3 linked regions of the Homo sapiens genome follow. The protein of the gene in region 2 interacts with the protein of the main gene of each other region in a biochemical or structural test. Each region holds a gene or a part of one and is shown on either strand. Other genes may lie near its edges.

What was found.
Region 1: the proteins of FCHO1 (region 2) and EPS15 form a complex in vitro, tested with the Homo sapiens proteins (2 studies listed by BioGRID).
Region 3: the proteins of FCHO1 (region 2) and PICALM form a complex in vitro, tested with the Homo sapiens proteins (one study listed by BioGRID).

What each region holds. Positions count from the first base shown.
Region 1 is NC_000001.11:51,516,266-51,523,568, reverse strand, and holds the start of EPS15 (epidermal growth factor receptor substrate 15), read left to right. Parts: upstream 1-4,302; 5' UTR 4,303-4,337; coding exon 4,338-4,370; intron 4,371-5,122; exon of another isoform or gene 5,123-5,297; intron 5,298-7,303. UniProt on the Homo sapiens protein: Involved in cell growth regulation. May be involved in the regulation of mitogenic signals and control of cell proliferation. Involved in the internalization of ligand-inducible receptors of the receptor tyrosine kinase (RTK) type, in particular EGFR.
Region 2 is NC_000019.10:17,768,455-17,775,479, reverse strand, and holds part of FCHO1 (F-BAR domain only protein 1), read right to left. Parts: intron 5,056-7,025; coding exon 4,903-5,055; intron 4,689-4,902; coding exon 4,584-4,688; intron 3,024-4,583; coding exon 2,925-3,023; intron 2,836-2,924; coding exon 2,739-2,835; intron 1,242-2,738; coding exon 1,197-1,241; exon of another isoform or gene 1,193-1,196; intron 1,087-1,192; coding exon 1,002-1,086; intron 425-1,001; coding exon 400-424; intron 25-399; coding exon 1-24. UniProt on the Homo sapiens protein: Functions in an early step of clathrin-mediated endocytosis. Has both a membrane binding/bending activity and the ability to recruit proteins essential to the formation of functional clathrin-coated pits.
Region 3 is NC_000011.10:85,975,084-85,982,108, forward strand, and holds part of PICALM (phosphatidylinositol-binding clathrin assembly protein), read right to left. Parts: intron 6,921-7,025; coding exon 6,789-6,920; intron 6,693-6,788; coding exon 6,662-6,692; intron 6,146-6,661; coding exon 6,046-6,145; intron 3,011-6,045; coding exon of another isoform or gene 2,987-3,010; intron 1,600-2,986; coding exon 1,540-1,599; intron 1-1,539. UniProt on the Homo sapiens protein: Cytoplasmic adapter protein that plays a critical role in clathrin-mediated endocytosis which is important in processes such as internalization of cell receptors, synaptic transmission or removal of apoptotic cells.

The DNA.
Region 1 (7,303 bases), on a different chromosome or scaffold from region 2:
GCATTTGAATCAGAAGACCCGTGTATAATTGTGTATAATTCCCAGCTTTGTCATTATGAATTTGGACAAATTCTTCTTCTGTTAAAAAAAAAAGATTAAAAATAACCCTTGTAGAGCTGTTTTGAGGAATAAATGAAATAATGCACATTAAAGCAGCAATTTGTCTGGGTGCGGTGGCTCACACCTATAATCCCAGCACTTTGGGAGGCTGAGGCAGGAGGATGACTTGAGCCCAGGAGTTGAAGACCAGCCTAGGCAACATAGCAAGACACTGTCTCAAATAAAATAAATAAATAAATAAAACAAAAAAAAGAAAACAGCAATTGTTGGTTATTAGTATTCAGATTTAAGTCATCAGATACAACTTTGTTTACCTAGGGAACATCTACTTTTTCAATGACAGGGATATGTCAGTTGTTCAAAGCACCCTTATTCTTATTTATTTATTTATTTTTATTTGATTGATTTTAAAAAAATAGAGACGAGGTCTCACTATGTTGCCCAGGCTGGTCTTGAACTCCTGGGCTCATGCAATCCTCCTGCCTCGGCCTTCCAGAGTGCTAAAATTACAAATGTGAGCCACCTGGTCTGGTCTGGCAGACCCATTCATGTAACTAATATATCTGTCAAACCAACTTAGTTGTTGGAGGGTTGCCTGAAGGGTAGAGAGTTAAATGGTGATCTTGAAGAATGGTATCTTATAGCTGCTACTTATTGAACATCTATTCCAGGCCAGTCTCTCTGATAGGCCATTATACATGAGCTCTAATCCTTAAACCATCCATACAAAGTAGATATTATTATCTTCAATGTAATCATGAGGAAAATGAGGCTTAGTGACCCAGAGACATTAAGTTGTCCTAGAAAAAACAGATAAATTCTTCTTGTCTGCTCCATGCAACTCATTCTTGTTATAATGAATTAGATTATAACATATATTCGATTGGCTACATTTTTCCTCTCCTAAAATAGATTTGGGATATGACCCAGTGCTCTGACGAGATCTGGGCCACACATTTGCAAATTGTCATTGGTTTGTCATTAAAACAAACAAACAAACAAACAAACAAAAACACCTCTCTCAGAAGTTCTAGGCCTTTTTTGGGAATTTGGCCCATTATTCTCTTCCCTATAGACATGCTCCCATCTCCCATTACATGTCATTAATTTAAACCAGAACCTACGAATGAAGAAAGAAGCCACTACAAATTACTAGTGGTCTGGAAGGGGACGTGGGGCAATTCCCATATAAAGATTTTAAGCAAGTCTTCCCTTGCTAGGGCATCTGATTCTTTTTATTTTTTGTTAACCAAGACCCAAGCCTGCTGTCAATGGCTCTTACTTATAGAAGCTATTTATAAAATAAATTTATAAAATATTTGTTCCTTGATTTTCTTATGGGGATAAAGTGAAGATCCAAATAACAATTATATATGAGATTGTATTCAGTTCAATTCAACAAACTTTTATAATGTACTTACTGAACATTAGAAGTTGTGCTTCTAAACATTTGGCCGGGCACGGTGGCTCACGCCTGTAATCCCAGCACTTTGGGAAGCCGAGGCAGGCAGATCACTTGAGGTCAGGAGTTCGAGACCAGCCTGGCCAACACGGTGAAACCCTGTCTCTACTAGAAAAAAAAAAATTAGCTGGTGTGGTGGCGGGTGCCTGTAATCCTAGCTACTCAGGAGGCTGAGGCACAAGAATCGCTTGAACCCAGGAGGTGGAGGTTGCAGTGAGCCGAGATTGCACCGTTGCACTCCAGCCTGGGTGACAGAGTGAGACCTTGTCTCAAAAAAATAAAAATAAAATAAAAACATTTATAAACGGTGAAAAGCAATACTGTATACATACAAGGTGTTATTTATTTATTAGAGATGGGGTCTCTCTATGTTGCTCAGGCTGAATTCGTGCTCTGTGCAACTGCCTCAGTCTCCTGTGTAGCTGGGACTATAGGCATGTGCCACCATGCCTGGGTAAGGTGTGCTTTTGACTTAATATAAATCATATAAAAGTTAAAACAGTAATAATTCCTTACTTTTCCTGTATGAGAAACTGAAGCTCAAAGAGGTTAAATGGTTTGCCTGCGGTCACACTCTGATTCTTAATATTCTCTTTGCTACTCTGCACTGCCTTTCCGGAAACTACATGGCAGGGTTTCCACCTTATTCATCTGAGAGGAATATCTTACATCTCATATGGTTTGGAGGAGTCCCCTTGAATAGCAAGTGAAATTATACTCCCCAAAGCGATTTGCTCCATGATTTTCAGATTTCATAATTTGTGTAGCTACAAGTTTAGGCACTTTTGTATATGTCATCTCATTCATCCTCACAACAACCCTAAGGGCATACAACTAGTGAATGGGAGAGCCAGGAATGGAACCTGGATATTCCTAATGTCTGAGTCCTATTTATTTCACTATACTATGCTGCTTTGTCTATCAGTTGTATAACCCTGGGCAAATCACTTAGCCTCTGTGACCCTGCATTACCTCATTTGTAAAGTGAGTATGACGATTACTTCCTTTTAGAGTTGTGAAGCTCAAATGTGCTAATATAAAGTAGAAAACACCGGTAGAAACACCGGTTGTGGTTATGGCTGATAAGTGTACCAAAGTGAAGTAATGTAAAACAGTATCTCTTATTCTCTCTTCAGTTAAAGAGATTAGCAGCAAAAAAGAAGCCAAGGAAGATGCTCTTGAATAAGTGGTTACTCACCAGACCTATATGGCTTGCTCTTGTTAGCTGGCCTTTGCCAGAAGGAGTCTGAGTAGAATTAGGAGTTCCTTGGGAAATTTCTGGAATGGTTTGCTTGTGGAGGCAATAGTCTAAAAACTTAGGTGGGGCTAACTCCATCCTGGGTCTTGTTCAGTTGTCCCTCCTACCACGGGGACTGCTATGATAATGGTAATGGGTGTAGGCCTGATAGAGTTGTGGTTTGTTGTAATGGGAAGCCATCGTGACTAAGAAATTAAGACCAATTCGGGCAAATACATTTATTGAGGCCTCTGTGGTAGGCTAAACTATGAGGGAGATAAAGCAGTGAGTCAGCCCCTTGTCCTCAAGGATTTTACAGTGCAGTGAGGTGGAGACAAACCCTCAACTAACGCTTACAGATAAGGCAGAGTATAAAAACGGTCACATCAGAACAACTTAGAGGTGGGGTGTGGAGTTCCTAGAAGGCTTCTTGAAGTAGGTGGTATATACTCTGAGACTTTGAAGATGAATTTCAAGTAACTGGGTATTCCAACTGAAGGTTGGCAGCATCAGAAGGTGTAGGATGTGTTATGTTTAATATAGGCAGGAACGAAGGCCTTTACTGAGCATGCACTGTAATGCTAGGGTCTGACGATATAGAAATATATTGAAAACAGTTCTTGCCATTGAGGAGCTCTTAATCTAGAGGGATAGATAGGTGTAAACTGTCATTAGGGTGATGACTTCACAAGGTAGAGAAGAAAGGTTATAAAGGAGAGTGTGTAACTCTGACATAAGGAAGAGAAAAAGATACTTTGCAAAGGAGGTGAAACTTGAATTATGTCCTGAGAAAGAAGGAGGAGTTTGCTAAGTGGATGATGGGAGAAGCTAGGAGTGCTACAGGCACCAGCGTTCCCTTGTTAAACAATCTAAATGTGACAGGCACCAGGCAAATACATTTTTGCTTCCCCTTTCCAAATGGATTTTGGCTGTGGGAGGGAATGACTTAATGTCTTCTTTTCCAATATACTAGCAGATGGTTAAATATTTACAGTTAGACTTGGATTCTAATTCAGCTATATAATTAGCTGTATGACCTTAGTAAGACACTTATTTGTGTTTCAGTTCCTTCATTCATACAATTCAAAAAATAAGAGTCTAGTACAGAGCCTGGCATATATAAAGTGCCATTATTATTTTCTATCATTATCTCATTTAGTCTTTGTAAGTAACTGGGCCTCTAGTTACAATTTCCCCCATTTTTCAGAAGCAGGAGCTCAGCGTAGGTAGGTGGCCTGTCTGAAGTTCACAGGTCAATCTGCAGTCGCCTCCGCAGCCCGTCCGCTTTAATTTTATGTCCGCGCCGGGTTTTCCAAGGCGGCCCCGGGGGCAGGCTCTGGTCCGGTGGCCGAGACTCCGGCGCCAGGGTTTGGGCGGCGCCGCGGCCGGCTCCGGCGGGCGGGCAGGCGGGCGGGGCCAGGCGGGGCGGGGCGGGCGTGGGGAGGGAAGTTGTGGAAGTTAGGGGAGACGCCCGCCCGCCCGCCCCGGCCTCGCCTGCGGCCGCTCCCTCCGCCTCCTCCCCGCCCCGAGCCCCAGTCAGCCCGTCTTCCTTCCCCTCCCTTGCATGATGGAAACACCATGGCTGCGGCGGCCCAGCTCTCTCTGACACAGGTAACGCCACACGCCCGTCCGCCGGGCTTGGCCGGCCGGTGCCCCCTCCCCCACCGCCCTCAGCTTCGCCGACTTCTTGGCTTGTGGGCCAAGCAGGCAGCTTCTTGGCTTGTGGGCCGGGCGGCCGGTGTGTGTGAGGGAAAGCGGGTGCGACTGCGGGAGGGCGCCCTCCGGAGCCGGAGCCCCCCTGCGGCCGCCGCGACCTCGCCCAGGGTCGTCGGGCGCCTCCTGCCCCGCCCCGCGCGGCCCTCGCCGCCCTCCGCGCCGCTGCCGAGTGGACTGTGACCCGGCCGCGCTCTGCCGGTGCCGGGCCGGCTCCCGCGGGGCAGCTTTCACCTACCCAGGAAGTTTCCTCCCACAGGGCCGCACGCATCCCAGGTGAGCTCCTGTTGAGCTCGCGCGGGCCGGCCGCACCCCCGGGCCGCACGAGGCTCGCCCGCCAGGCCGGCTGCGCGCCGCCCCCAGTAGGAGTTGCCTTCCAGAGCCGGACGCGCAGGCCCCCCAAGCCAGTCTTTCCTCTCCAGACCTGCCTTTCTCCCAGGGTCCGACGGAAGCCCTCCCTTCCCAGAGTTTAATGTAGTTAGCCTCGCCTCCAAAGAAGTCTCATCCTACTCAACTACCCACTCTGCCGGCCCCTTCCTCCGTTCAGCCTCTCCCCCCTCCTGATCAGGTTTCCTTCTGGGTCAGACCCCCAATGCAGCCTTTTGCCACCCACGTCTGCTTCCACTTCAACTTCCCCTCGGGGGGCTCACGCCTGATCGCTGTCCAGGTGGATCCCTTTAACGGGTGTGGTGGCTCCGCCAGTCTTGGTGCCAGGAACGGCCTCCCGGGGAGCACTTTTCTTGGGGGGAATCCTCAGCAAAACCTGTTCTCGAGCTTCCCTCTTGCCTCGTTGCTTCCTGTCAAAGTCCAGTCCTTGTGCTTCTCAGAAAACCTCTAAACATCACTCACACTGGGAACCTGGTCCCTCCCTCTCTGTAAAGAAGCCAATTACAATGTAAACATGGTGTCCGGGATGATAAGGTGACAGACACCTGCCAGTTCCTTCCTGCTCCTGTGACCCAAACTCTCCCCCGCGTCTCCTCAGACGGTTCTCTCCAGAGCTGGTGGCGCGTGCTTCCCGATTGGGGCCCATCCCGTCTTCCTTGCCTGCATTGTGGTATCTCACTGCCATCTTGTACTCCTTGGCCTAGATTCGTCGGTGCTTCTAAGGCTTTAGCGCTGGGATAGGGCAAACATTTCGGCAGTGGAGTTTTCTGTGTTTAAAATCAAGAGGCTTTGGGGTGCTTTGCCTAGCACTGTAGGATAGAGAGAAAAAAATGTTTTCTCAGAAACCAGGAGTCACGTACATGCTTCATGTAAAATAACTAACCCGTGTTTGCAGGAATTCTAAGTGTCATAAGGAAAGTCTATTTCCCAGTTTTTTTGATGGTGGTGGTGGTTGTCCTGTTCTGACAAGCAGAGAACCCTTTAACATGGAATGTGGTGGTTTAGTCTTGGTTATGTATGTTTGGAAGGGTCCTCCCAAAACTCAAATTTGAACAACTACAGCACTGACTTTTAGGTATTCACTTTCTGTGAGTCTAGTTAGTGACTTGCATTAAACAAGATCCCTGTTGGCAGGCTGTTGTTTTCTGGCTCTGTTGGCCAATTCTGGCAGGAGTTTTCCCTTGAAGATTTTGTGCTCTTAAAGACTTCCGTAAAATTGCTTCTCAGTTGTGTGCATACTTTATTCTCTCCCTGGGTAATACCATGTTTTTAGCTTCTATTTACATCATTCATCTCTGGAGAATTGCTTCAAGCTCTGTCAGTTTTATAGCCATTTAAAAAATTTACATATGTTCTTGGGTTATATATTTAGGTATTAATGTGTACACAGTAAGTACGGAATCAGTAGTAGCTATTATCCTTCAGTGCCTCACATATGAGATAATATACATTGGTGGTTAATTTTTATTGATAATTCAAATAAGTAAATTCAGAATATTCTGATTTTAAAACATGAAGAGGCAATAAGAGGGATTACGAAGGCACACGAAAAAATAACATTTCCAGTTGCTAGTATACCCTAATGTGCCTCCTTGTTACTTCAAAACTTTGCAGATTTGTGGTTTTTAAATTTAATTTAATTTTTTTATAACTGCCTGAGCCCAATACACTAAGATAACAATGCAGCCTGGTTTCACATTCATTACTGACCCGTTTGTCATCCTCTGTTCCCCCCACCCTGCCCACTCTCCCAGCACACACATTTAGACATAGGCATACTCAAGTGAGAGCTCATTCAGGGCAGGGACATCTTTTAATCCATCTTTCTCCCATGGTACCTATCTGGAAGAAAGTAATTAATAACTGTTGTAGGAATGACTGAAAGCTCTAAAGGGTTCTATAACAGTTATGGAGATTAAACATGCTCAAGTTAATTTCTGCTTCTGTTCATATGTTGATGATTTTCATTCAGCAAATATTTTTATAGTACCTATTATGTACTAGACATTGTACTGGGATTATCGTGTTTATAATTTCTTGCCTTTACCAATTAAGCAAAACTGAGTTTGGGGAAAAAATGTGAAAAATGTTTTAGCTTATGCCTTCCTTCCTTTTTCCAAGCTTGCCAACCAACCCTTCAACTCCCCAGCCACCAAAATAAATTATCTAAATTATTATAGTCTAGCTTCTAGAGATGATAGAATGCTAGAGTACCAAAATGTTAGTTCCAGTTCTGCTTTGGCCACAGCTAACTGTATGGGTTTGGGTTAAATATCCAGGCCTCAGTTTTCTTAACTTTAAAAGAGACTCAACAAACATTTGCTGAGCATTCAGTATGTGCTAGGAATTACTCTAGGTACTGAGGATATATATACTCATGAACAAAAATAGTTAACAATTCTTTGACCTTGGAGACAAAACCTGGAACTTATTTCTGCTAGAGG
Region 2 (7,025 bases):
TTCTTCATCCACCTCTGGACATGTCTAGGGGAGTCAGGGGGCAGCAGTGAGTCAGGCGCCCCACTATCGAACCTTCCATCTCACCCTGCCAACCGCCCCCCGCCCTGCCCCCAGGCCTTGACTCAGACCTCAAAACCAACCCTGATGGCAACGACTGTCTTCCCTGGGTGTGTGGGCAGGTTCCTGGGACAAACTGAGCTTCGGCAGGGACATTATTCACACCCACGTAGTCCATGGGACTTTGCAGCTGAGGTGGGATATGAACCCAGCCCCCAGGCTCCAGCCCGCCCCTCAATCTCGGCTCTTTAGTTTCCAGTAGGGATCGGGACTCTAGGAGCCAAGAGTGGGATCAAACTCCTTCCACTTGTAGCCCAGCCTGACCCCTCCCACATCACTCACCCCTGAATCGGGCTCCAGGAAATCTCTGGGGATGGAGGAAGAGATGTTGGTGTCAGCTTCCGCAGCCCATCTGGTGCCCCCTGTCAGCCCCCAACACTGGACATGGAAGCTGGGGCAGCTCCCAGACTGTGATACTGCCCTGAGCTAGCCCTAGAGGCGGTGGGACCATGGGGCTTGCTTGGGGAGGGGGTTGAATCTGAAGTTAGCTGAGTAGAGAGTGTTCTCAAACAGCCTGGGAGGGAAGGAATCCTGGAACTCATTTGAAGGGCTGCCTTGTGAAGATAGGGAAAGTCGGGGCTAGCCTTGGCAAACAGAACAATCCTGGGCCAGCTTGGGCAGGGAAGATGCTACGTTACTCTGGGACAGGCAATTCCTGGCCTAACCTAGCAAAAGGAAGAATTCTGGACTAGCTTGGGCAGCGGTAATATTGAGCTAGCCGGGGGCAGAGGTACTCCTGGTCTAGCTCAGGTAGAGGGAATCCTGGTCCAGCCTGGAATATGGATACTCCTGGGCTATCCTAGGAGGGGACTTCTGGGATAGCCTGGGCAGGGGAGGGGATCTCGGTCTAGCCTGGGCCAGACCGGGCAGGGGTGCTTCCTCACACAGCTGCAGGTGGCTCTGGCTCCCGCTCCCGCCGGCTTAGTCCTGGAAGGCGAAAGGCCTTGGCTCCCCGCAAACGTTTCATCGCTGAGGATAGATTGGGGGGCACCTGAGCACTGTGAGCCTCCTTTCACATTCAGATCAGCCTCCCTCACCCCCATGGTCCAGCCTGGGCATCCAGGCCCAGACGTACTTGCCTTCCTGCAGGGCAGCCGCACTGTATGCCTCGAAGTCCAGAGGTCCTGAGACAGGAGACGGAAACTCAATTGAGGGGCTGGGCACGGTGGCCCATGCCTGTAATCCCAGCACTTTGGGAGGCTAAGGCGGGCGGATCACCTGAGGTCAGGAGTTCAAGACCAGCCTGGCCACCATGGTGAAACCCTGTCTCTGCTAAAATTACAAAAAAGCCGGACATGGTGGCAGGCGCCTGTAATCCCAGCTACTGGGGAGGCTGAGGCAGGAGAATCGCTTGAACCCAGGAGGCGGAGGTTGCAGTGAGCCGAGACTGCACCACTGCACTCCAGCCTGGGTGACAGAGCAAGACTCTGCCTCAAAAAAATTAAAAAAAAAAAAAAAAGAGAGAGAGAGAGAGAAAGAAACTAAATTGAGGGTGGGGAGACTGCGCTTGGAAAGGGTAGTACACTTTTGGCCACAAAATGGCACCTGGATCTGAACTCAAGGTCCATCAGGTTCCCGGACAAGAACCAGCCCCACATCATCAGAAGTGGGATGGACCAAGGGGCTGGTCTGGTTCCAGCAGGGCAGTGCCACCGCAGGGGGTGACATGAGCTACTTCTACATACTTCCAGCATTTGTGGCTGGAACTTGGGTTGGGTCGGGGAATGGACCATGCGTCTGTGCAGTGGGCTGGGCTTTGAGTGACAGGATAAGGAGTGGGAACTCTCTCCCAAGAACAATGGGGAGCCATGGAAGGTGTGTGAGCAGGAGGAGGACAAAACAGATCTGGGGCCTGTGAAGGGCAAGAGTGGGGCCCCATGCAGGGAGGGGAGACCTGAGCCAGGCCTGAGCCAGAGCGACAGGAGGGAGAAAGAACAGGTTTTGCTAGTTAACAAGACTTGAGGACGTAACTGTATACCAGCATTTAGTGAGTGCCTACTGTGTGCCTGGCACACCCTTTGCCCTTTACCTGCATGAAATCACTGAATGTTGCAACATTATTACATCCTCACTTTACAGATGAGGAAACTGAGGCTCAGAGAAGTCAAAGCACAGGTCCTAGGTCACACAGCAAGCGATGAAGAAAAGACTCAAACCCACGTCTCACTCTAAAACTTTTGCTCTTAACTCCTTCCCAGTCCTGCATCTGCGCATTCCCAAATTGTTCTTTTGCTCAACAACCCTCAATGGCTCCCTTAGGCCCTGGGGGTGAAGTCTGATCAGCCAAGCCTGGCATTCAAGGCTCCTCTGGGATCTGGTTCAAAGACATTTACACATAAGATCAGGCTGGAGAGCTGGACTTGTCAGCAGCCCATTTTTCCCATGAAGAAACCAAGGCCTGGCCATGTGCAGTGGCTCACGCCTGTAATCCCAGCACTTTGGGAGGCCGAGGCAGGCAGATCACCTGAGGTCAAGAGTTCGAGACCAGCCTGGCCAACATGGTGAAACCTCGTCTCTATTAAAAATAAAAAAATAAAAAAAAAATTAGCTGGGCATGGTGGCACATGCCTGTCTGCAGCTGTGGCCCCGAAGCCCGACCCCCAATGGCTGCCCTGACTCACCAGGCTTCTCCCGGCCTGTGCCCTTACTCTCTGCAAACTTCCTGAGTAGCATCTCCACGCTGACGTTCTCGATGTTCTGCTTAAATTCCTCATGCACCTGTGCCGGGTGGGCGGGGTGTGTAACTGGTCAAGGCCCCTTTGCCCAGCAGTGACCCCAGCCTCATTCCTCACACCTGCCCAACTCACCTGCCCAATCTGCACGTGCGTGTCCTCCACCGAGTGAGCATATGAGCCCAGCAGTGCCTTCATGTGCCTCAGGTGTGTCTCCTCCATGGCTTGGAAGCGCTGAAGCAGGAGGGCAGAGGCAGGTGGAAAGGAGGTCAGGGCCAAGAAGAAGTGGCCATATGACTCAGCCTGACCAATCAGAATACCCTAAGCCCTTGGCTCAGTGATTGATTTGGGGAAGGGCCAATGAGAGTCTGCCCTAGGACTTTCATTGACTCTACAGGAAAAGGCACTTCCATTCCTGAGCCAATGTGCTGATGGGATGTAAGTGGGGGTTGCTGGTGCCCAGTTTGATGCACACATGTGCATGCTTGCACACACATGCACACACACACACACACAAGGGGATGTCTGTGTGGGAGTGATGTCCCCAGAGAGAAAAACAGACTTAAGAAGCAGAAATAGTGGTCAGCTGTGGTGTATCATGCCTGTAATCCCAGCACTTTGGGAGGCCAAGGCAGGTGGATCATCTGAGGTCAGGAATTCAAGACCAGTCTGGGCAACATGGTGAAACCGTTTCTACTAAAAATACAAAAATTAGCTGGGTGTGGTGGCACGTGCCTGTAATCCCAACTACTAGGGAGGCTGAGGCAGGAGAATCACTTGAGCCCAGGAGGCGGAGGTTGCAGTGAGCTGAGATCACGCCACTGCACTCCAGCCTGAGTGACAGAGAGATCCCATCTCAAAAAAATAAAAGAAGCAGAAATTCACAATTTCCTGCCAGCACTATTTGAGCACATGGATTCAGCTATGACTGAAACCTCCACAACTCAAAAATAAAACTTTACAGTTCCCTGAGCTTGTCAGTTTTTTTAAATTTTATTTTTTATTTTATTTTTTATTTTTTTGAGACAGAGTCTCGCTCTGTCGCCCAGGCTGGAGTGCAGTGGCGCAATCTCGGCTCACTGCAAGCTCCGCCTCCTGGGTTCTCGCCATTCTCCGGCCTCAGCCTCCTGAGCAGCTGGGACTACAGGCACCCACCACCACGCCCGGCTAATTTTTTTGTATTTTTAGTAGAGAGGGGGTTTCACCGTGTTAGCCAGGATAGTCTCGATCTCCTGACCTCGTGATCCACCTGCCTCGGCCTCCCAAAGTGCTGGGATTACAGGCATGAGCCACCGCGCCCAGCCTTTTTCTTTTCTTTTCTTTTTTTTTTTTATATACACCTGTCGGTTTGAATGAAGGCTTCTATCACTTGTAACTTGAAAAAAGTTCTGATTCCTAATCCTCAGATTCCAATCTGCTTGAATTTATTTTATTTTTTCGAGACAGGGTTCCACTCTATCACCTAACCTGGAGTACAATGGCTCGATCTTGGCTCACTGCAACCTCCGCCTTCTGGTTCAAGTGATTCTCCCGCCTCAGCCTCCTGAGTAGCTGGGATTACAGGCACCTGCCACTACGCCCGGCTAATTTTGTATTTTTAGTAGAGACAGGCTTTCGCCATGTTGGCCAGGCTGGTCTCAAACTCCTGACCTCAGGTGATCCTCCCGCCTCGGCCTCCCAAAGTGCTGGGATTACAGGTGTGAGCCACCACACCCTGCCTGGGATTTCTGCAGTCCATAACCTCCAGGGCAAAGGCATGTGTGGGTCTTAAAGGTACAGATGCCTGGTTCTTACCAGGGCTGAGTCCAGCATCTTCTGCTCAAAGTCAGCTCGGGCTGAGTTGTATTTTTCCACTGAGCGCCGCAGGCTCTCTGCCGCCTTCTTGGTTTTAGTCTCCGCCTACAAAGCACAGGGAGGAAACGGGGATGGGAGGGCGATACTCAGGGGGCCTCCCCCAGGCCCCATCACCTGGCAGGTGAACTCCTCGGGGTACCCAGGGTGTGATCACCCACAGGTTCCAGGACCGTCGCTCTGGGATGTGTTTCCACTCTCTGATCAGGCAGCCCCTCCGCCCCGCGGCAAATTCCTCAGAACCCCCCCACTGTGAGCCCACCTTGTCCATCTCCTTCTGGCTGGTACTCTCCCTCCGCAGCCGCTCCTGGTCCATGCAACGGTTCAGGTAGTTCTCGCGGGACTTGGGCAGGAGCTGGCTGACGCCCGAGAGTACCTGCACAGCATCCAAGGTGCTCACCACTTCCTCCTTGCACTGCGGGGTAGGAGGGGATTTCATGGGTAGACTGTGAAATTCCTGACCTCCCAAACACTCCACGTGATGTCAGCTCCACAGTCTTTTTCTATGTGTGTGTGTGTGTTTTGGTTTGGTTTTTTTTAGACAGAGTTTCGCTCTTGTTGTCCAGGCTGGAGTGCAGTGGCACGATCTCGACTCACTGCAATCTCTGCCTCCCGGTTTCAAGCAATTCTCCTGCCTCAGCCTCCCAAGTAGCTGAGATTACAGGTGCTCACCATCACACCCAGATAATTTTTTGTATTTTTAGTGGAGACGGGGTTTCACCATGTTGGCCAGGCTGGTCTCTAACTCCTGACCTCAGGTGATCTGCCCACCTTGGCCTCCCAAAGTGCTGGCATTACAGGTGTGAGCCACCACGCCCGGCCTCTGTGTGTGTGTTTTAATAGCAATGGGGTCTTGCTATGTTGCCCAGGCTGGTCTCAAACTCCTACACTCAAGCAATCCACCTGCCTCAGCCTCCCAAAGTGTTGGGATTACAGGTGTGAGCCACTACGCCCGGCCTGTACGTTTTTCATTTCAAAACATTTTTAACTTTAAAAAAAAGTACTATTTACACATGGTTCATATTTCAGAAAGTTGTAAGAGGTAAGCCAGGAAAAAGCCTCCCATATATGGGCCCTCCAGCCTAGAAGTCCCCAATTATTACTGTGATACTTCTCTAGAAATAATCCGCATATGGATAAAGATGCTTGTTCTAACCCAAGTTTTATGACAAACAGTGGCAGACTGTGTTGCTTAACTCACCGTTTTGTGTGTGTGTGTGTGTGTGTGTGTGTGTGTGTGTGTGTGTGTGTGTGTGTGTTTGAGACGAAGTCTCGCTGTGTCACCCAGGCTGGAGTGCAGTGGCGCGATCTTGGCTCACTGCAAGCTCCGCCTCCCGGGTTCACGCCATTCTCCTGCCTCAGCCTCCTGAGTAGCTGAGACTACAGGCGCCGCCACCACGCCCGGCTAATTTTTCTTTTGTATTTTTAGTAGAGACGGGGTTTCACCGTGTTAGTCAGGATGGTCTCGATCTCCTGACCTCGTGATCTGCCTGCCTCGGACTCCCAAAGTGCTGGGATTACAGGCTTGAGCCACCGTGCCAGGCCTTTTTTTTTTTTTTTTTTTTGAGGCGGAGTCTTGCTCTTTCACCCAGGCTGGAGTGCAGTGGCACAATCTCAGCTCCCTGCAACCTCCGCCTCCCGGGTTTAAGCGATTCTCCTGCCTCAGCCTCCCAAGTAGCTGGGATTACAAGCATGCACCACCATGCCCGGCTAATTTTGTATTTTTAGTAGAGACAGGGTTTCACCATTTTGGCCAGGCTGGTCTTGAACTCCCGACTTCAGGTGATCTGCCCGCCTCAGCCTCCCAAAGTGCTGGGATTACAGACATAAGTCACTGTGCCCAGCTTTTTTTTTTAAGAGATGGGGTCTCACTGTGTTGCCCAAACTGGTCTCTAACTCTTAGGCTCAAGCAATTCTCACACCTCAGCTCAGCCTCCCAAGTAGCTGGGACTACAGGCATGCACACCACGCCTGGCCTGCTTTTACCACTTAAAAATTCACTCCTGGCCAGGCACAGTGACCCATGCCTGTAATGCCAACATTTTGGAAGGCTGAGGCAGATATGTTAGATGTTTGACCAGCCTGGGCAACACAGCAGGACCCCTTCTCTCTCTCCTTTTTTTTTTTTTTGCCTTGTTTTGTTTTTGAGACAGAGTCTCACTCTGTTGCCCGGGCTGGAGTGGTGTGTCGCGATCTCAACTGACTGCAACCTCCACCTCCCAGGCTCAAGTCATTCTCCTGTCTCAGCCTCCTGAGTAGCTGGGATTACAGGTGTGTGTGCCACCACGTCTGGCTAATTTTTGTGTTTTTAGTATAGACAGGGTTTCACCATGTTGGCCAGGCTGGTCTGGAACTCCTGACTTCAAGTGATATGCCTGCCTCAAC
Region 3 (7,025 bases), on a different chromosome or scaffold from region 2:
TGTATTACAACAGATAAAATGATTAAGACTAAGAGTTTCCAAATTTATCAGGTTTAGACATCAAGAAAACTTAAGACTCTGTCTTCGCTGCTAAGAAATTTCAAAGTAAATTTGTATAACAAATCAAGTACTTTTGCCATTATGCAAGTGATCACAAGTGAAGACAGTTGATTCTCTGAATAAGCCTGCTCTAGTTCTTCCATTTTATTTCATATAAGAATCAAGAAAGAGCTTAAACTACAAACCAGAGGTTAACTCTTTCTTGAGTAACTGAAAATACAATCTCAACCAAATATGTTTCTTTAAAAATTACCACTACAGGGTATAAAATTAACCTAGTAAGTGACAATACCTAGTGTAAAAATAATGCACAAACAGAATACTGTTTTGGTTAAAATGCAATGCTCTAAAATCTTTCCTTTCAAGAAGTTCTATTTATTGTTTCAAGCAGACTACTATTTGCATTTAGAGCTTCATTTTAAGTTTATGGCCTGAGTTTCTCAGCAGACTTTTTTTTTTTTTTTTTTTTTTGAGATGGAGTCTTGCTCCGTTGCCCAGACTGGAGTGCAGTGGCATGATCTCAACTCACTGTGACCTCTGCCTCCTGGGTTCAAGCCATTCTCCTGCCTCAGCCTCCCAAGTAGCTGGAATTACAGGTGTGCGCCACCATACCCAGCTAATTTTTGTATTTTTAGTAGAGACGGAGTTTCACCATATTGGTCAGGCTGGTCTTGAACTCCCAACCTCAGGTGATCCACCCACCTTGGCCTCCCAAAGTGCTGGGATTACAGGCGTAAGCCACCACACCCAGCCTCAGCAGACATTTTAATGCAATGACTATGAAAAAAAGCTGTGAAACTTCTCCACATGTATAAAAGGAGTTACTTCCATATCATATACATAAAGAAGTAACATAGCAGGCACAGTAGCAATACCAAGGGACACGGTACTGCCTTCTACCAGGAACAGTTCCTCAAATACATACCAGTGGGTTGAAGCTACTAGCACCATTTCTTTTCTAATTGAGTCTCTATATACTGAGAGTTGGGAAACTAAGGGCAATCTAAAATGCACATTGTGGCATTTTGAAAGGTTAAAAGACTGTTTTTGTACTGTAATAATCATTGTCACAGGAAAATTTCTCTAGCCTTTATCAGACTAAATTTATCTCTATACAATTCAAGTGTTAATCCCTCCCATGCCCTACAATATCAGGTTATAAGACCTCACTGGTATTTAATATATGGTCACAGCAACAAAGGCTTAGAATTAACATTAATGTTTGAAATATAAAAGGCCCAGCAAAGTTACGAGGAGAAAAATAAACCAAGTAATACTATGAACATTAATGCATAAGATCTCTTGTATAATGATTATTCTAGACATACTTATGAAACCAATGCTATGGTTCTACTGCATTAGGCACTAGGGCTAGGAGTATGAGGAGCACTAAATTCTTTTTTAGGTTAAATTGTAATAAAAACATGTTATATATGAATCAATATTTTTTCCAAAAGCTGTACCTAGGAAAATACTTACAATTCCATATCCTATCATGCCTGTTGGTGTAGTAGCAGGATAGGCCATTACAGGGGGTGCCTAACATAGTGAAAGGAAAAATGAACAAGAAAGTATAACTCATGTGTGTCAACTGAGTTCAAGGAATTAGTAGCTGTAGTTCCACTAAAAAGAATTGCTAAGACAGCTGTGAGTAAGTGACACTTGTGATCATTAAGAACTGTCGATTAATGGTCAGTGAAAAAAAGTGTTTTGAAATTAGCAGAAAAGCAGACTTATTAGAAGGATAACTATACCACTTAAACTTAGATACAGCAGTGATCTAAGATTTCATCATGCTTTTTACAGCTTTAAAAATCTTTAGATTTAAAAAAGTATCTTAAATAGTTCTAAATAGTTCTAAAATTTAAAGCCTATCACTATCATTAAAAAATGTCTACCCAGAAAAAGTATTATTGAATGTTTTCTTACTTAGGTACCTGATTGCTTTAGCATTCAAAGAAAAAAATGTAAAGATCTCAAATCAATCAATAACCTGATCTTCCAAAAAGTTAGTTTCTAAGGATCTTACTCACTCTTTTCAAAAAACTCCAAAGGTTTCAAACTACTATTGAGTATGACTATTTCTATGAGCCATAGTTCTTATATAGAGTATGTACGTTAGCTTTCTAATTTATTCCAAAAATTATTTAAGAGGAACAATCAATTAGGTCAGTTTATGCTTTCATGTTTAAAAGAACCATCTATCACTATGATGTTTAAGTTCCCCTCTTCCTACTACTTTGATTATCTGTAAACATACAATTTGAGAACAGAATCATTTTAGATATAGTTGCTGTCTTAACAACATTTCCTGTGTGTGTTTCTCATAATGAAAACTGAAATTGAATAAAGGTGAAAGACCAATAACACTGCTAAAACATAAAATAACTGAAATTATATGGCAATTTGAACATATGCATGGAGAAATTAAATGAAATATAACTTTAAAAAAATAACACTAAAGTGAATAGTTATAAGTTTAGTATTCGGGTGAGCGTGTAGGACTTATTGGTCTCTCCCTACTTAAAACCAAGATCTGCAAGAGCAGTAGACAAACTGCCAAGAAGAGCAGAAGCCTGTAAGATTTCATGCAGTTGTTATTTTAAACATTACCACAATCAACATTTCCCTTCATTCAGAAGTCATCAAGTGCATAGTGGCAGCACAGATACACACACAGACACCCAGCCATCTGGCAGCAAATGGCGGAATATTAAGCAAGAAAAAAAATCGGTATTTCCCATGCCACCATCAGAATCAATTCTGCAACACACCCATGAAATCAGTAGATGCTAGGAAGAATTTCTGGCACATTGAAAATCTGAATGTGAAAACAAGTAATAGCTGAAAGGTTATGAGATTCTGCTACAGCAGTGGTTAATAGCATGCCAATTTATTGCAAAAAGGCTCGTTTTTGGTCACTTACGTATTGTGGAAAATGCATGCCATTCTGTTTTTCCCAGGGAGAACAATTACATAATGCAATAACACTGGATTAGAACAAGTACTTACACAACAGAAAATACACAGAGAGCATTTTAGTTCACATGTACATTCACTAACTACCTAAAATCCCTTGTATTTCCAGTATCTAATGAAAGAACATCTATACTAAAACACTATCAAGGTTGACAAGGGAATTGTAGTCTTTGGCCTCATCTCTTTATATAAAAAATAGTTTATTGATTACAAGTACCATTAAAACATCAATTCTATCAACAGTGTCAACAGTGCAAAATTTTGGGCATTGCATAAACAGGGTTGCATCAGATGTCTACCACAGAAAAAAAGCAAGCACTAATTAAAAGAATTTGTAGTATAATATATATTTTAATAAAATTCCAATGAATTTGTGTTAAATTTAAAAAACACTGAAAAACCTTGACAGTGTTTAAGGATTAATAAAAAGGTTAGAAATGTAAAGAAATGTCAAAAGCAGCAGTTTATCTTAAGTAGTGAATCACATTATCAGCCCCAAACATTAGCCATTAAAAAGAAAACTCCATAAAATACATATAAATATTTAAGCAAAATCCTTAGGAGATGATACACATTACCATATATAACACAGCAAGATAAAGACTGTTACCTTATCAACTTAAATACAAATTCTACATGACTAAATACCTACTACATTTTAGTAGTCAGTCTTAAGTGCTATCTATGAACTCCTAATACTTCATATAGATTAATACTAACTTAATATAAGAAAATATTCATTATATTTTAATAGCAGCACTGGTATTTATATCATTCCTCATACATCATCAATGTCATAATTCACACGAGTCCATAAAATCCACTACTCTAAACTCCTACCATACCCTAGTCAGTGAGGTGTGTTATAGTGGGAAGAAGACTGGATTCAGAGTCAAAGAGATGGATTTCAACTTAAATCTGCTTTTCAACTGCTTTGCACTTAGGGAAAAAAAAAATCTTTAGAAGTGGGGTGATACATGCTCCAATTCCCTCAAGACAGCAACATTTACATGTTTAAGATTGTGTATTTGTGTGTATAAAAATCTAAACTACTTAAATGCAAAGTTTTAAAATCAGTGATGATAGGCTGGGCGTGGTAGCTCAGGCCTGTAATCCCAGCACTCTGGGAGGCTGAGGCGGGTGGATCACTTGAGGTCAGCAGTTCAAGACCAGCCTGGCCAACATAATAAAACCCAGTCTCTACTAAAAATTTAAAAATTAGCTGGACCTGGTGGTGGGCACCTGTAATCCCAGCTACTCGGGAGGCTAAGGCAGGAGAATCACTTGAACCTGGGAGGCAGAGGTTGCAGTGAGCTGAGGTCGCGCCACTGCAATGTAGCCTGGGCAAAAGAGCAAGACTCCGTCACAAAAAAAAAAAAAATACAAAATAATAAAATTAGTGATGGCAATGAACACTGTCTGAAAGAAAACAAAAACAACAACAAAAAAACACTGCCTTAAAAAGGTAGCTAAATCTCAATATTACTTTCCATTTATGAAGTCTTAAGCTATATAATAAAATGCACAAATTTTAACAAACATACTATTTTTAGCTCAGTCCTACTAATTTTAACATATCATTAACCCACGGAAAACAGGGCAGTGCTCTGGAAGTGGCTATAAGGACAACCGCAGCCTCTAACAGTAACAGGACAGCTGTCAGTAACGTGTAGCCCGTGTAATCAAAACACAGCTACTAGCCTACTGTCTGGAGAAAGAATGCTTCAAACTTTTCCACAAGGAGTTTTCTTTGACTGACGAAAATTTGTTGGTTGGTAAGATAGAAACTGGCCAAGGACAGGAGAATAGCCACAGAGCTATTCTGGGTCTACCATACCTTACAGTAATTAAAACATACTAAAACCTCTTCATTACTAGATGCTAATTATTTAATTAGAAAATACAGTTAATCCTCATTATTCATGGATTCCATATTTGCAAATTCACCTACATGATAAACTTTGTGACACCAAAAATCAACACTCCTGGTGCTTTCAAGGCCATTCATGCTCATTTGCAGAGGGGCAAAAATTTGACTCATCCAATACAGTTCACCTCCAGCTGAGATGGAACAAAGGACACTCTGCCTTGGTTCAGCTCTCATACCAGACCAGAGGATAGAGAAGGAGGATGGGGAGTCCATCATACTGCAAGAAACTCTGACTCTGGGGCCAGCTGGACAGGGCTAAAATTCCAACTCTGGCACCAGTTAGTGCGACAGCCTTAAGCAAGTCACTTAACACTTCTGAACTTTATTTCCTCTTTCATAAAATAAATAGAATATACTAGAATGAGGTTTTCTAAAAGGACCGTCTATGTGACATATACATATATGCATATATTTCCCCCAGCAAGGGTTCAGTGTTCACTAATTCAGTGTTTGGGGTGACTTAAGTACTTAACTGCCACAAATAATGAGTATCAACTGTGTAAGTTATATGACATATATATAATTGCCAAACACATTGTCATATATATAAATTATATGACAAAACCGAAGCAAGTATAGTTTCTTTACCAATAATGAAATCACAAGATTTTGTATTTTAGAAAAATAAATAAAAAATTTGAGGTCAGTAATATAGAGTAGTGATTAAGGACATATGTTCTATAGTTAGGCTGCCTAGGTTATAAAAATTCAACTCATCATTTAAGATCTCTGTAATCCTGAGCACATTGCTTAATAACTCTGAGCCTCCACTTCCTCATCTGTAAAATAGGGATAATAATAGTGACTAACACATTAATAGGAGGATTATAAAAAATAAAACATTATTATTTACTGGAATATGTCTGGCACAAAGTAACCCTTAAATACTTGTTAGCCACTAAAATGTATCTGGTAAATATAGGCAACCAGCTTCCTTTGAAAGAAATACAATTACTTATACTTCTAAACTCAGTAACAATCCTTCTATTTATGTCTATCACTTTAAAAACATTTTCATGTTACATATTTAACTAAATTATTCAACTGTTAGTCTATCAGGAGCTTTTTCAACTCACCATTGTTGCAGCATTCCAAGCGGTTGTTGGTGCAACCTTTGGTTGCCAGTTAGATCCCCCAGTTAACTTCTTTTCACCTGGTTGACTCCAATTTACATCACTTTAAATAAACATAAGTGAGAATATTAAATGTCTCTAATTATAAAGTTTCCTTAGCTATATACTTATATAGAACAGAGTAAGATAGAGACTTGAGGCTGGGCGTGGTGGCTCATGCCTGTAATCCCAGCACTTTGGGAGGCCAAGGTGGACAAATCACTTGAGGTCAGGAGATTGAGACCAACCTGGCTAACACGGCGAAACCCCGTCTCTACTAAAAATACAAAAAAATTAGCCAGGCATGGTGGTGGGTGCCTGTAGTCCAGCTACTTGAGAGGCTGAGGCAGAAGAACGGCGTGAATCCGGGAGGCGGAGCTTGCAGTGGGCCGAGATTGCGCCACTGTACTCCAGCCTGAGCAACAGAGCGAGACTCCGTGTCAAAAAAAAAAAAAAAAGATGCAGACTTGATATCTCTACACATATTTTTGAGAGGAAAGCCAAATCAACCCTCCAAATAACACATGGAGAAAACACTAAATAACACACGGAGAAAACAATGTGTATATTAAACACTCACTTCTTAGTGGTTCCATTTCCGATGCCAAGATCTAGGAAAGGAGAAAAACAAAAAAGCATTTTATAACACGAGACGCAGTTTAATAAAACAACATAAAAGAAGATTAACGTATCCAAAGACTACTTACTGCCCACAAGGTTGGCTAAAGATGAATCCAAGTCATCAGATACTAACTTGCTAGGTGGGAGTTTGGCAACAGGAAGGTTCTGGTTCTGAGAGGCCACTGTTGGTTTGAGAAGTCCACCTAGTTCATCAAAGCCTTAAAGTTACAAACAGACGAAATAGAATTTGTAAGGAACTTTATGACGCTATGGTTTTCTAAAGGAGGTCTTTGCCTTTTCTCCTTGTTTATTCACTGGAAAAG